Regions from separate parts of the Homo sapiens genome. Here region 1 is linked to region 2. Evidence: fine-mapped expression QTL. Tissue or cell type: whole blood. Region 2 holds a variant in brackets; the other region holds the start of a gene. All regions are shown on one strand. Distances are from middle to middle.

Region 1 (8,178 bases), 28 kb before region 2:
GTTTCTGGGTGCTTATGCCTGAGGCTGCAGGGCTTTCCCGGGCCTCCCATCTGCTGAGTCAGAGACCCCAGGGTGGAGCATGCTCTGGCTTCTGAGGGCATCGCCATCAGGAGCAACGCTGGTGGAAGCCAGTGTGAAGCTGATCATCCTACTGGTAGGTGGATAAGAAGTAGGGCAGAGAAGATTTAAAGAGGTGAATGAAAGGGGCCCCGTACACAGGCCCTCTTGATTATGTTGTTGACTCTCTCCAGCCTCAGCCCCTGCCACTTTCCCTACTTGTGCCTACTCTTCATTGAATATATAATTAATTGTGGTTTCTCAAATCTGTGTCACTGACCAGGACTCTTAATGACCAGGGACAGAAACCAAGCTCAAACTTGCTTGAGCCTAACATAAATTTCTCGGTGCCTGTCAGGGAATGCTGGCTTTAGGTCTTGTAGGATCCAAGGGCTCAGCTGACAGCATCAGGTTTTCTCTTGACCCTCTCCAAGGCTAGGCGGCTAGAGTCTCTATGTTTGCTTGTTATCTTCAGCTCTGTGTAATTCTTTTCTTTGTTGTGGGAAAAATGGGCATCACCAGCCTTGATTGAAGACCATTCTGGATTAGCAACTGCAGTGGCGGAGGGAGTCTTTTCTCTCCCATGGTCAATCTATTGATCCCGGGGAAGACACTGATTGGTTCTGAGTGGGTCACATGTACACCTTTGGGCCATTCACAGTGCCTGTGGTATGGAGGAGCTGCAAGTGTTCCCACTGGGTCACAACTCCCCCGCAACACCTGCAGCTTCTGACAGTCCCGTCTGAGCTCACGGGTCGGTGGAAGAAACGTCCTTCAAAAGGAAAGCCGACAGGAGCCGGAGGGGAGGCTGGGCTGGTAGAAACAACACACGCCCATGGTCCATGGCATGCTGCATCGGAGCTTTAGCCCATTCCATAGCTTCTTTCCAGAATGTCCCATCCCTTAACCACTCAGAGAAAGAATTCTTGAACTCCTTCGTGTGACTTTCACAGTGAATTCGCCCCCAGGCTTCTAACACCGTTCATTTCCATGTACGTTGTGTGCTGCACACCCCTCCTAGCACACTGCTTACGAACTGCTGCTCCGCCTTGCTTATCTACACAGGAGTAAACGTGATGGACACACAACTCTTGCTGCCTCTCACAAATATGCCGGCGTATGGGAGGGTCTGAGCTGGAGGGAGGCGCACCTTGGATTGGTGTGAATCAGGCATCAGGAACTCCTGTGCTCACAGCTTGTCCAGCTCTCCCTCAGCATTTGGGCCACTCCACAGAATTCTTTGTTCAGGCCCGATCTGTCCTCCTGGGACATCTGAGCTGCTCAGCACCAGGAAACATGCTCTGTTGTGCGCAGGGCATCAGCTTTGCAAATAATCCAGTTACGTTCCCATTGGTAGCTGGCGTCACACTTTATGTCCTTGTAAAATTTTGAGTGGAGCCTAATCACAATGTAAGGTCTCATTTTTAATGTTTAATTAGCATCCTCCCAGTAAAGTCTGAAATATTTTACCAAAGCGTAACAATGTTTTTCATTCTTTAAGTAAAGTACACATGCATGTGGCCCAAAACTATGACTTGAATGTTGAATGTGAGGCTGCCTGCCGGGCACTCCCCACCCAAGCATAGAAAAAAGAAAATCGGGCCGGGCGCGGTGGCTCACACCTGTAATCCCAGCACTTTGGGAGGCTGAGGTGGGCGGATCACGAGGTCAGGAGTTCGAGACCAGCCTGGCCAACATGGTGAAACTCCGCCTCTACTAAAAATACAAAAAAATTAGCCGGGTGTGGTGGCGGGTGCCTGTAATCCTGGCTACTCAGGAGGCTGAGGCAGGAGAATTGCTTGAACCTGGGAGCTCAGTGAGGTTGTGGTGGGCTGAGATCGTGCCACTGCCCTCTAGCCTGGGCAACAGAATGAGACTCCATCTCAAAATAAATAAATAAATACAATAAAATCTTGGGTTCCTTGAAGGGGAATTCCAGCCACCTAGCTAGCCCTGAGAAATACATGAGCAACTTGGGAAGCAAGAAGTTAATAGTGGCGAGAAACAATAGTCAAGAGAGTTAGAGTCAGGAATTCATTGCTTCCCTGTAGAAACTAAAGACAACATCGTAACAAACGACCCGGAGTTGTTTTTCAGAACCTGGACCCCCACCAAATGGATCTGTTGACTTACAGACCTCTGATATGGGGGAGCGGAGAGCTGAACTCCACCACCGTTCTTTGTTCTTTGTTTTTTGAGACAGAGTCTCACTCTGTTGCCCAGGCTGGAGTGCAGTGGCTCAATCTCAGCTCACTGCAACCTCCGCCTCCTGGGTTCAAGCGATTCTCTTGCCTCAGCCTCCCAAGTATCCTCCTGAGTACAGGTATGCACCACCACACCCGGCTAATTTTTGTATTTTTAGTAGAGACGGGGTTTCGCCATGTTGGCCAGGCTGGTCTCGAACCCCTGACCTCAGGTGATCCACCTGCCTCAGCCTCCCAAAGTGTTGGGATCCACCCCTCCGGGCCCACCACTGTTCTTTGTTCTAAATTTCTTCCTGAGGGGCCTGGAGGAGGTCATGCCCACAGGCCAGAGCTAACATTCTTTTTTGCTGATCTCAAATTTTTTGACAAAGCCTTGCCTTCTTAACCAATCACAAATCAGAAAACCTCTGAATCTACTACCTATATGACCTGTGGGCCCCCAGTTCAAGATGTCCTAGCTTTTTAGGTCAAACCAATGTGCAGCCTCCAGGTATTATTCATGTGGGACTTAGCCTGTAACCTCTGCCTCTCCACCTTGAAAAACCCTCCCCCATCAGCCATCGGGGAGTTCAGGTCTGAAGTGTGAGCTGCCAGGTTCTGCTCGCCTGGTGCCCTGCTCTAAATGCCTCACTTCCTCTCACTGCAATCCCGACGTCCATGTTTGGCTTTGCTGCGGGAGGGCAGAGCCAGGCTGGGTTTGGTGACAAACGCTGAGTGCTCACCAAGTACCAAGCCCTGTTCTCGGGGCTGGGGTGCAGAGCGAACAGGCAGAAAGAAGGTCTCTGCTCTCATGGGGCCTACGCCTCGGTGGGGAGAGACTGACAATAAATGAAATAAACGTCTAAGATATGAAGTACATTGGATCGTGGTTAGTGGGATCGAGAAAATACAGCAGGGGAGGGCTTTAGGGGGAGGGAGACCTGCTGTCAAGGTGATGTTTGGGTGCCGAACACCCCGACGTTTGGGTGATGGAATGAGATGCTCAGAGACATCAGAGTTGCTTGGTTCCAGGCCCATGGACCACTCAAGGCCCTGTCTCAAATCTCCAGGCTTCAGGACACGCTGCTTTACATGGAGGCGGGCTCTTCATCTGGGCCTCTGAACAAGGCCTGAGACAGGACGCAGGCAAATAGCATGAGGCACGAGACTGTAGTCCGGGATGGAGAGTCAGAGTGAGTCTGAGGATGAGTGCAGATGCCTGCAGGGCAAGCTCTGCTGAATTGCTTTGCTATCTAGTTTTTATTACAGTCATTGAATCGGGGTGTCTCCCATTATCTGATGACAATTTTATGATGAAAAGAAACCATGCTGGCTTTGTTCGGTCATGGAGATGGGAAAGGTCCGCATATTCAGCAATCTGTTGAATTCTTCCAGGTTAAAACTGGAGCTGAGAAAAACCTGCAGCTGCCTGTCCCTCCCTTCACCTCTTCCAGCGAGAGGCAGTGGGGGACTGGAGAGCTGATGAAATGGCAGAGATAAAGGTTGTAAATTAGTTTTCCCTGAAGCCGACCAGCCTGAGCAACAGGATAAAGGTCGTTATTACAGACAGCCCCCGGCCTTTGGAGTTCACAGTTTCTCCATTGCTAGGAGATGGAACTCTCTGGAACCCTTCTCCAGCTCCACAGAGAGGCTCAGGCTATCAGAGGATCTGAGCGGTTGTAGGCTGCAGGCACAAGTTAAAAATAATCACCTAACGTTTTGACAGCACTTTCTTTTTTTCTGTCCCACAGAGATTGGAAGTCATTTTCTTATCCTCTTTAGGAAGTATGTTGGATTCAGGATTCTTAATTCCCATTTAAAGTCAGGACAATTGAGATAACTGTATCAGCTAACATTTACTGGGTGTTATGTTATACTTGCTAATAATAATCATAGCTAACATTTACTGAGTGATAATTTTTCTTAATAGAAAATAGCAGCATTTACTGAGTGCCACATATTTTCCAAGTACTGCCTGAAGAGCCTTGGATCTGTCCTCTAATTTATTGTTACAGCCCTGAGGAGGAGGAACTATTAACCCCCATTTTGTGGATGAGGAATTCGAAAACTAAGAGAGATCAAGTAATTTGCCTAGGAGCACAGCTGGTGAATGTTGGAGAAAGTATGAAGCGGTAAATATTACTTAAATCACATAGCAAATATAGCTGTGACTGCAATTCTAGGGTGTGTGTCTCTGTGTGTCCACGTGTATTTGGAGTAGATCGGATAAACTTTGGTCTTGGGTAAACTGAGGCATGTCTGGCGAAGGGGCTGACTCTTTTCTATCCCATTGAGAACATCCTCCTGGTGCTGGGGTGGGGGTATATGTGGGATGGTGTAATTGCGCAGCGTACCTTGTAATTAATTCCGTAGCTTTCACTGACGTCCGAAAGGATTAGAGAGAAAAATGTGGTCAGCGCTTAATATGGAGGGCACAGTGGGTGTGCTGCTTTCTCTTTTCCATCCCTCTGTCAACTTCATTCTCTTTTGGGGGCAAACAAGACTCAGATCTAAACAGAGTTTATGGTTTGTTTTGCATTTTGTATTTATTAATATTTATGCCGACTTTGAAGGTGCTGACCAGAAGGCATCAGTAACACACACACGCACACGCACACACACCACACACCATGTCTGTTTGGTTTGATTCTGAGCCTGAGATCCTGGAAATATTTCAGCTGTTGTTAAGAGGCTGGAGTTAGGACCCAGGAAGGACACAGCAGTGGGGATATAAATAGAAAAGGAGAACAGAACAAAGTTTGAGGAGAGAGACTTACATCACTCACTCCCCCTCCACCCAGAGAGCAGGACGGAGGTGTGAACTTGAGCCAGACCAGAAGGAGCTCGAGAGCGGCCGCAGGACAAGCCCGAGGAGCAGGCGGGCGCTCCAGGGGAAAACCACGCACAAAACCTTCTTCAGAGAAAAGGGAAGCTCCAAACCTGACTGAGACAAACGGAGGCTCTTGAAATAAAAAGAAAATACCGCAGGACAAACAGCCTCCCGTCCCCGGGCGCAGGTCGCGGTCACAGTGGTGACCTGGGATTGCTTTCCCAGGACTGCGAGTCGGGTTTGGGTTTCTCCTCCCTGCATTCCACAGCTGCTCTGGTCATCGCAACGTGTTTATTGATCACTGAAGAATCTCAAGTTTTGAGACGAGGAAGAAACACCCATTAGGTCTCCAAGACAGCTGTGTTTCACAAACTTTAAGGAGACAGAAATTTTCTCCCCTGGAACCTGTGAAAATGTCCCTTTTCCAAGGAAGTGAAGGTTAAGAGGTCCCGTTCTCACAGACCCTCAGGAATTTCACTTGGCTCCGAGCTTTGACCTCCGAGAGAGCCATGGAAAAGCTGCTGCGGCTGTGCTGCTGGTACTCCTGGCTGCTGCTATTTTATTACAACTTTCAGGTAATGTCCCCAAGTGGCCAGGATGGCGACAGGCTTGGTTTCTCCGGAGGCTTTCCCTGAGTGTGTCTCACACTGTGGTCTTTTGTGCGCAGGTGCGTGGCGTCTACTCCAGATCGCAGGACCATCCAGGTAAGAGTGTTTCCTTCTCACTCTGAGCACCGCTCTCCCCCTGCCTAGTGCAGGTATCTCAGGAACAGCCCACTTGTTCATCTCTGAGGCATCAGCGAATGGCCCTTGTTGGGCTCCTGGTCCCCGACCTCACTGCCTCACCACACACTGTGACCCTGGGCAGCTCTGCTACCCCTCACCGGCTGAGCGGTGGATGGAGAAGTGGTTCTGGGCCCCTTGAGCTGGGTCATATGAAACATTGTGATTAAGGAAATATGATCTTCATTTGAATGCCTTCTGCCTCTTTCTTTCTCTCTTTCTCTCTTTCTTCCTTTCTTCCTTTTTTTCTTTTTGAGATGGAGTCTTGCTCTGTTGCCCAGGCTGGAGTGCAGTGGCCGCAACCTCTGCCTCCCGGGTTCAAGCAATTCTCCTGCCTCAGCCACCTGAGTAGCTGGGATCACAGGTGTGCACCACTACACCCAGCTTTTTTTTTTTTTGTATTTTTAGTAGAGACAGGGTTTCACTATGTTGGCCAGGCTGGTCTCGAACTCCTGATTTCAGGTGATCCGCCCGCCTTGGCCTCCCAGAGTGCTGGGATTACAGATGTGAGCCACCACACCCATCTCATGTCTTCAGGGCAGATTCACTGGTGGGGAGTTGGAGCTCTGGCCCATAGCAGGGTCTCGGGACCTCCAGCCTCAGAGTGCTGACCAGCTTAGCCTGGAGCAGCCGATGAGTGGGACTCGGGATAGAGGGCCACCCTTGCTCCAGCCCCAGAGCCACATTCCATTGGCCATTGTGACACCCAACCAGGAAGCATCAGGACGGGGCTTCTCTCGGGAAGACAGGGAGGCACACACCCTTCGCTGTTAAGAGTGTGGGCACACGTTCTGGTCAGCCAGGGGCAGGGATGGGAAGACGAGGCTTTCTGGGAGCAGCAGGCAGTCACTGGGCTGTTGCTCCCTGCTGGAAGTTGCAGGAGGTGGGGAGGAGACCCTGCTAGTGCCTGAACCCCTGCTGGGAAGCCTGTTGTGAGCACAGCCTCTGCCCCCGCCCCACCAGAGCTTGGCTGGGCACCCCCCCGAGCGCTATTGTATGGCCCTGCCTGTCTCTGATGGGAAATCAGCCTTTTTAAAAAAATTATTTTTGTTTTTATTTTTTGAGACAAAGTCTCACTCTGTCACCCAGGCTGGAGTTGAGTGGTGAGATCTCAGTCTCGGCTCTCTGCTACCTCTGCCTCCCGGGTTCAAGCGATTCTTGTGCCTCAGCCTTCCAAGCAGCTGGGATTACAGGCCCATGCCACCACGCCTGGCTAATTTTTGTATTTTTAGTAGACACAAGGTTTTGCCATGTTGGCCAGGCTGGTCTCGATCTCCTGACCTCGGGTGATCCAACCACCTCGGCCTCCCAAAGTGTTGGGATTACAGATGTGAGCCACTGGGCCTGGCTGGGAACCAGCCTTTAATGATCAACCACAAATGGACTCAGGCCAGCACTGTGGGCAGATCCCAGGGCGATACCCAGGCCTCCAGGGAGAGCCCCTTTCCTGGATGGAGCACCAGGAGCCTGCTGGGGTCTAGGGCCAGGGGCTGTGCCCTCAGCCTCTGTCTCCTTTCCGGCTGCCCGGCAGCCCCATGCCAGGATGTTCCAGGCATCGTCGCCTCGCCACCACCTCCATTCACCAACTCGGGGGTGGGGACGCTGCCACTTCTGTTTCGTCCACATGCATAGGGAGCTCCTTTTAAAAAGGTGTGGAAGCTGTGAGTTTCCACACATTCCCCTCTCCTCAGCCAAATCGCTGAATGAAACAAGGGCTCCTGTGGCTTGGGAACGAATAAACATGCCCAGCGCTGCGTTAAAGAGAGGACGTGTCCACCTTGGACACCTTGCTTCTCGTGAATGCAGGCCTCATGGCTTGGGCTGGGCTCCAGTAGGGGAGAGGACTGAGAGGAGGAGAGGGGTAGCCCCTCGAACTGCAGGGCGGTCAGGCAGAGCTGTGCACCCGGCTCCTGCAGCAGGCAGGTGGCCCCCGAGGCCCCAGCATGGCCCTCACTGCTGCTCAGTGTTGGAGAAAAGCTGTGCGGGTTCTCCCCGGACTTCTGCTTATGATACAGAGCCCACACGCATTCTCACACATGCACATGTGTCCACATGCCCCCCCATGCTACATGTCTACATGTGTCAACATATGCCCACATGCACCAACACAAATCACACACATCCACACATGGTGACACATATGCATACACACACACACCAGATGTCTACATGTGTCAACATATGGCCACATGTGCCAACACACATCACATGTCCACACACCACTCACATCCATACACATCAGACATGTTGACACACATGCATACACATGCAAAAGCATCCACACATATGCACACACCTGCATGCATCAACATGTGTCCACATGCAT
Region 2 (8,178 bases):
AGGTGGTGGCCATTCCCCAGGATGGCCTGCGTGTGGCTTTGTTAGAGGAGCAGGGAAAGGGGAAAGGGAAGAATTTCTTATTCCCATGGGGAAAGTGGGTGTCCTACAGCCCCAGTCATTTCAGGAAGCGATTAGAGTGGGGCTTTGGGGTGGGGGTGTGGAGTGAGAATTTTAAAGGCTCGATATGCAAACGAGTGTCTCCTCCTGGCCACACCAGGCACAGGGCCCATGAGGCAGCCGGGAAACGGGCTCTGAGTCTTGCGTGAAAGCGTATGGGACGCGCATCCTCGTGGCTCTTTGGGAAACGTGGTGGGCCACAGGCTGGTCCGGGTGCCAGAACGGCCATCAGACCCTGTCCCTGCCTTGCTCCAGCTCTGTTCTCAAGGCTGCTTTCCTGGTGTGGGAGCAGCATCCGCTCAGAAGCTCCAAGTTCTGGTTTTGTCAGGTGAGCCTGCCCATGCCTGGGTCAGTCCTGGTGATTCTGATAGGCCCAGCCCGAGTCAGCCTTCAGCTGTGTGGTCTGTGGTGACTGGGGTGTGGGTACAGACGCCAGGCGGGCCCGCATGCCTGTATAACCTCGCGCCCTCCTGGGCCGCTGCTTTGTTGGCATGTGTTGATCATGCTCTTGCAGGGTGCTGAGTCTGTGGGCCTGGGAAGGGCAGCTGCATGCATGATCTCCAAGGGAAGGGCGGGAGCCACAGCACAGTGATTACAAACGCAGACTCCAGATCCAGGCTGCCTGGGTTCAAATCCTGACTCGTCCCAGACCAGCTGTGTGGCCTTGGGCAAGTTACCGCACCTCCCTGTGCTTCAGTTTTCTCCCCTGTGAAATGGGGACAGTAATGACCCCTAGTTCACAGGTTGTTGGGAGGATTTAACCTCAGCCCATATAAGTTCTCCTCACCTGCTAGAAATCATCCTTTGTCTTATGCCGTGGTCTCTACATATGAAGGGAATTAACTTCTCATCTAGTAAATCTGTGACAAATATTCTTTCCCTGGATGGTTGTCTGTCTTTGAGTTTGTTACGGTAATTTTTTTTGCCTTGCAGAATATTATATTTATGCACTTAAATTTATTAGTCTTTTCTTATGACTCCTAGATTTTTATTTTTCCTTTTTTTGTCTTGTCAAAAAAGATCTTTCCTCATTTTATTTTTTGGATGTTTTAGGATTCAGTGCTTATAACAAGAAAAAATTATCAAATTAGTTTGTCAATATTGTGCTTGTTTCTTTTTCCTTCAGATTTTTCCTTGTTGTATTGATGGCCCAACTCCATGAGGCAAAGTTCCTTAAAAGGCTAATATGGAAGGCACATTGTGAATTTGTTATGACTCTATGAAGACGTGAATTGATACTTAAATATAAGCTGTTGCTCAGGTAGAAGTCATTGTTTTGTGCGTTGAGTTAACTAAATGAAAAGCTTGGTTACCGGCACCATGGATGGCCTTCGATCTACCCTTACCTAACACCACATGGAATTTTTTTATTTTTATTTTTCTTCCTGAACAGAAAGACATTTGGCCAAGACAGGCTCATTTTGAATTGAGTGAAAGAAATTTTAAAATGCAGCAAAGTTTTTGGAAAAAATTAACTTCCATGAATCCTACTGGGAATTTGTTTCATAACAAAAATTTCACAACGCACTGTGCTGACTTCCTTGTGAAACGGGTTGTTTCTGAGTGTGCAGGGAAGTGGCGGGAGGCTTGGGGGTTTGTCCTGGCTTCTGTACCCCTCAGCGCCCAAGGCAGGGAAGTGGCGGGAGGCTCGGGGGGTTGTCCTGGCTTCTGTACCCCTCAGCGCCCAAGGCAGGTGTTGCAGGAAGCCCGTTCATGAGGTGGGTGTGGGTGGTGCCAGCCAGGTCTGGGGACACCAGCGTCAGCTGCCCCAGGCCTCTGTGCAACCCCCACAGTCGCACCCTTTTGCGGTAACCCACATTACTGGGCACTCGGGAAGGCTGTTTTCTTTCCCAGGAGCCCTAAGGACAGATGCCGCAGGGCTTGGAGTTGTACCCCGTAGCCTCTCAGAGGTCCAGAAAGGTCCAGGCCTCTTCCAATTTTTTTGAGGTTCTTCTTCTCTTAAAAAATAAAATGGGGAAATTCCATACCAGGGTTATAAAATGTATGCTGTGTTTTTCCTGAATCCTGCGAGGGCTTTGAACTCACAAAGGTATAGTTGTCTTGATATATTGTCACAAGACATTTGAAGGACTTCTAACAGATATGTTAATTCATAAGGCATCACAGAAAGCATGGTGGGCAATGAGACACTGCCTTATACACGAATGACAAATGTCTTCTTTGAATTCAGTGACTCTCTAAGACTGTGTCCATAACCTCATGTGAAGGTAAGGTCTAAAGTCTAAATTTGGCACCATTTATAGAAATAAAGCCCAGGGCAAATATCCTTCTGCCTCTCCCCTGCACCCACCGTCCCATCATGGGCCTCTTTGGACCAGTTCTGGGCACGTGTTCTCTCTCAGCACCACTGAACCCTCTTACCCATGTGCCTGGGCCAGGCTTGGCGGGGGTGAGGCAGCTGGATGTATTTCCAGCTGTCAGGGGCAGAATCCAGACAGGCAGCTAGTGTCTCACACACACACACACACACACACACACACACACACACACACACACTGGAGTTTACACACAAAGAAGGGCCAGGTGGGCAGATGCTACTGGAGGCAGAGAAGTGGAATAGAGACAACCAGAGCTCCAAAATGCAACGCCAGAGAGGCCCAAGCTCCACAGAGCCTCCAGCCAGGCCCTGCCCTGACTTCCCCTTCAGCAGAGAGCCCGGCCCCCAGACCAGTGGGTGTGAGTGCAGAACAGCGGTCGGGGTGGGTGCGGGGCATGCTCAGGAGCTGGGCTTTTGCGGTTCCTCTTTTTTTTTTTTTGAGACGGAGTCTCGCTCTGTCGCCCAGGCTGGAGTGCAGTGGCACAATCTCGGCTCACTGCAAGCTCTGCCTCCCGGGTTCACGCCATTCTCCTGCCTCAGCCTCCTGAGCAGCTGGGACGACAGGCACCTGCCACCACGCCTGGCTAATTTTTTGTATTTTTAGTAGAGACGGGGTTTCACCATGTTAGTAAAGATGGTCTCGATCTCCTGACCTCATGATCCACCCGCCTCGGCCTCCCTAAGTGCTGGGATTACAGGCGTGAGCCACCATGCCTGGACCCTCTTTTTTTTGAGACAGAGTCTTGCTCTGTTGCCCAGGCTGGAGTGCAATGGCGTGGTCTCGGCTCACTGCAACCTCTGCCTCCGTGGTTCAAACAATTCTCCTGCCTCAGCCTCCTGAGTAGCTGGGACTACAGGTGCATGCCACCACACCCGGCCAATTTTTATATTTTTAGTAGAGACGGCATTTCACTATGCTGGCCAGGCTGGTCTCAAACTCCTGACCTCAGGTGATCCACTTGCCTCGGCCTCCCAAAGTGCTGGGATTACAGGCGTGAGCCACCGCGCCCGGCCTGCAGTTCCTCTTATAGTAAAAACATGGAGAAATCCCACATGAGGATCATAAAAATTACATTGTTTTTCCATGTTTACATTGATCACAGTAGGACTTTGCACCCACAAAGGTACAATATCTAATTGTCATAATTTACTGTAATATACTGCCACAACACATTTGAGGTATGTCCTATCTGCTGCTGGTGGCGGAGGCAACATGAACTAATGAGCCAGCTCATTCATGCTAACATGCGTCGCTCAGACCATTTAGTCCAGGTGCAATCCCTCCTCCCCCGCAGCGTGGGCCTGGGGTCAGGACTTACCACGAATGTGCAGACTAGAGTCTTGAAAAAGGTTTCAGCTGCTGCCCCCTCTGTATCCAACTGCGGGAAATGAACAATTGAAGATATCAACAACCTTAAAAGTGTGCTTCCCTTTGGCAAGAAATGCCCTCTTGGGAATGTATCCTAAAGGCATATAGTCTGAGATATGCAAAAGAATTTGCTTCAAGTTCTGTTTGAAAATTTCTTCAAAAAGTGGAAGAAAACCTTAAGATCCAGCAACAGGGGATTGCTGTTTAAAAAAAAGACTGTGGTGCTTGTTTAGAATGCGCCGCTGTGCAGACATAAAAGTGACAACGTGACAGTGTATTTATGGACATCGGAGGAAGTTCACGGTGGAGTAAACTTTATAGAAATGTTGTTTATAAACCAGTGTGCCTGAGATGGTTCGTGTCTTTGTAAAATCTATTTATAGAAGAGGCTTAGGAAGGAGCCGCCCTAACCACATTTCTGGAGGAATAGGAGAGAAACCTGGAGGGTGTAGGTCTTCACATTTGCATGATCCCGGGGAGTGGGGGCGGGGAACTGCCTGGGGCTGCAGCGATCTTCATCAGTCACTGGTGACCTTGAGTGAATGAGCCTCAGTTCCTTCATCTGTATAGTGGGGATGAAGCAGGATTTTTGTACTTTTTAAAAGGCGAGAATTCATTTCAAACTCCTAGAAAAGTGCCTGGCACTGTGTGAGCCCTTAATAAACATGAGCAAATATCACTGTCTGGATTTTCTGAACTGAACATACACTGCCTTTAGAATGGGGACAAAATGCTTTTCGAATGAAAAATAAAAAGCAAAGAGAACCATGTGCTTGCGAGAAGTCAAGTCCCCTGCTCTCTGTGAATAACTGATCTTGTGACTTTCCTCAGGGGTCACGTTTTCTTTTTTCTGGAAGACACAAGGAGAACAGTCTAGACCAATCCCTTCTGCGTATGGGGGACAGGTCATCTCCAATGGGTTCAAAGTCTGCTCCAGCGGTGGCAGAGGCTCTGTGGAGCTGTATACGCGGGACAATTCCATGACATGGGAGGCCTCCTTCAGCCCCCCAGGTGAGTGACAGCATCGGTCCCGGGAGGCTCTGCCTGGAGGAGTGGAGTCTTCT[CTG/C]AGAATGGACGCTGAGAAGCCCAACGCAGCCCAAGGAGCCCAGGGATGCTGCTGCCTCCTGGCACCCGAGCTCCTTTCCTTTAAGGGTTGTTGGGGAGGTGCATGGGGAGAGGCAAGGAGGTGCCCTTGGTAAGCCGCCTTTGGTTGGTGCAGAGCCTGGGCTCCGTCTGCCCGTGCACTGTGTGCCTGCTGTAGGTTACCTGACCACACTGACCTCAGTGATCACACCTGTGATGTGCAGATGATATTGACAGTACTTACCTCACGGTTTCCAGGACATTAAGCTGAAGATATGGTGTGCAAAGTGCAAGCAGTGGTTACATTTCTCCTTCTTTTCCTTCTCATTTTCCCTCTTCCTCCTCATCTGCCTCCTTTTTCTCTCACAGTCTTTGTCTCTTCCTCTTTCTCTTCCTCCCCCTCCTCTTCTTCCTTCTTCTTAGTGGTATAGACTTGAAATTGTTTAAAGCATGACGAGAAGAAGCTTTTGGAGAGAGAGGCTGAAGAATCGGGGAGCAGAGGAAGGGGCTAGGGGAGAGCGCATGAAGCACTGGACTGTGCGTGGTCTTGGAGGAGGGAGGGGCCCTGGATGTGTGGGAAGAGAACAGGAGTCCCTGCACATTGGCTGAGTTTGCAGGTGGGTGTTGAGACATGGACGTGGGGCAGTAGGCTGCAGAGGCTGACGAAGGTCTGAAGTGGAAGCTGGAGAAGGGGAACAGGTGGCTGGGGACACAGAAGGACTCAGGGTGGCATGGAGTGGGGGCCAAGTCAGGACTGGAGCCCAACAAGGGAAGGGCAGAGGTGGAGGGGGCAGCACAAAAGCCTAGGATGATCTCCTCCGGTAGGAAACATCTTTGATGTATTTAAGGGAAATCCATTTTCTGGCTCATTCTTAAGGGAGGCTGCATGGCCCAGTTATTAAAAAGCGTGAACTCTGGACCCAAACAGGCTGGATCAAATCCCGCCTCTGGACGTTGGTAGTTGTGTGAACCTGGGCACCTTCCCTAACTGCCCTATGCCTCAGTTTCCTCATTCATAATATGGCAGTAATAGCAGTATCACATCATAGGGTGACTGTGAGAACTAAGTGGGCTGCTAGGCATAAAGCGTGGAATGATGGCACAGTGGGCCCAGAAGGTGTTTGCCTTCTTCTGTGGATGCTCGGTGTGCTCGGACCAGCTTGTACCTCCACCTCTGTAAAGTGGGGCAGTTCAGCAAACATCTACTTCAAATTTGCCCTCTGTGATCCCTAAGGTCAGAAATAATCTCTGCCTCCCTCCCCTGACACAGAACCATCTGAACCTTTTCCGTGACCTTCCTGTTCCACTTGCTATCAGAGTCCGATTGTAAGCAGCTTATCTCTCTGCTCCTTGGGGCTGGTGGAACGTGGTTTCAGGCATCCATTAGGTTCTTTGACCTTGAACAAAGGTAAAGTATGCTCAACTCTGGCTGCTTTTCCACCCAGGGAAAGGGCGAGAATTAGAAACACTTCTGGCTGGCAATGTGCTCTCTTTTGTGCATTGAAGGCGTTTGTTATTCTTACTTTCAAACTCAGGGGCAATAATACTTTGGACCAACCTAGGGTCCAAGCGTGCTCCAGAGACTCAAAATTATCAGAAAGTTGCACAATCTTGAGCAAGAAGCCCTGATGTCATTCTGGGTGATCTAAGATGCATAGCTGGCTAGAGGTGATGTGTGTCCTTTAAAAGGGCTGCCCTGTTCCTTCCAGCAGCAAGCTCAGGAGGACAGCTTACCACACATGCTGGCAGAACAAAGGGAACCTTTGTGGGGGAATCAACAGTCAAAGTCTGATGAACATTCTTGTTGATGAGCGTGGTTCTTGTGCCAGAGAGAAGAGTAACACAAATGCTGGTTGATGGAGGTTCCTGAATGAGCAGGGAGGTTGGTCTTCCCTCTACCAACTCACTCCCATGTTGGTTAACATTATACGCCCTCGCTTAGAGCACAGGCTGATGCCAATGGCCTGTGGGCTGAGTTGGGTCCTCAGATGGGTTTTATGGTCCTATATTGTGATTGCCTAGGCCAAGTTTGTAAGAAAAATATTTGGAATGATTTACGATCATTAGTTATGATTTTATTTTAAAATTAAGATTTTCCAATTTCTTTTGGAAATAAAAAGACTGGCAAGGCAGGCTCTTCATCTCTCATGTTACTGATGGGGGAGGTGAGTAGGGGCCACCTCGTGATGGGGCAGCCGCCCTTCCACGCACTGCAGTCAGCACAGAAGCCACGTCCTCAGGGAAAGCTCGTTACTGTGCTTACCCGCTCCCTGGCCTCTGCAGACTGGGTTGGTGGGCGCCATGGAGTGCCTGTATTGCTGTTAGATTTTAATAGATTTTATTTTTTAGAACAGTTTTAGATTCACAGAAAAATTGAGTGCAAAGTTCAGAGAATTCCCATTACCCTCCGCCTCTACACAGGCACAGCTTCCCCCACTATGGACATTCCCCCACCAGAATGATCCATTTGTTACATGTGATGAACCTACAGTGACACATCATTGTCACCCAAAGTCCATAGTTCACATTAGCATTTGCTCTCGGTGTTGTACATTCTATGGGTTGGTGAGGTTGATCTTTCGCCCATTTTAAAAATTGGATTGTTTTTCTTTCTTTTTTCCTTCCTCCCTTTCTTCTTCCCCTCCTCTCTCTTTTCCTTCTTTCCCTCCCTCCCTTCCTCCCTCCCTTCCTTCCTTCCTTCTTGCCTTCCATCCTCCCTTGCTCCCTTCCTTTCCTTCTTTCCTTCCTTCTTTCTTCTCTTCTCTCTCTCTCTCACTCTCTCTCTCCTCTCTTCTCTCTTTCTCTCTTTCTTTCTTTTTCTTTCTGACAGGATCTGTCATCCAGGCTGGAGTACAGTGGTGCAATCACAGCTTACTGCAGCGTTTAACTCCAGGGCTCAGGTGATCCTCCTACCTCAGTTGCCCAAGTAGCTGGGATTACCGGCATGTGCCACCATGTCTCACTAGTTTTTTTTTTTTTTTGGTACAGGTGAGGTCTTACTTGGTTGCCCAGGCTGGTCTCAAACTCCTGGCTTCAAGCGATCCTCCCATCTCAGCCTCCCAAAATGCGGGTCGTTTGTTTTCTTACTGTTGAATTTTAAGAGTTTTTGGGTGTATTTTGGATAATAGTCCTTTATCATGTCTTTTCCAAATATTTTCTCCCCATCCGTGACTTGTCTTCTCATTCTCTTGACAGTGTCTTTCACAGAGCAGACATTTTTAGTTGTAAGGAAGTCCAGCTTGTCAATTATTTCTTTCATGGATTGTGCCTT

The links. PIP is the estimated chance that this variant, and not a neighbour inherited with it, causes the effect.
Region 1: ADGRD1 starts here. The variant in region 2 is fine-mapped to the expression of ADGRD1 in whole blood (TOPMed, PIP above 0.99).

Annotation. Positions count from the first base shown.
Region 1 is chr12:130,948,887-130,957,064 of GRCh38, forward strand. It overlaps ADGRD1 (adhesion G protein-coupled receptor D1), which reads left to right and starts at 5,021. Exons shown (of 25, transcript NM_198827.5): 1 at 5,021-5,645; 2 at 5,738-5,774. The coding sequence starts at 5,580.
Region 2 is chr12:130,977,229-130,985,406 of GRCh38, forward strand. It overlaps ADGRD1 (adhesion G protein-coupled receptor D1), which reads left to right. Exons shown (of 25, transcript NM_198827.5): 5 at 4,656-4,835. Among named protein-coding and RNA genes, the nearest start is that of ADGRD1-AS1, 13 kb to the right of the region's middle. RefSeq lists an enhancer at 2,318-3,308. The variant CTG/C (reference allele first, on the strand shown) is at 4,889.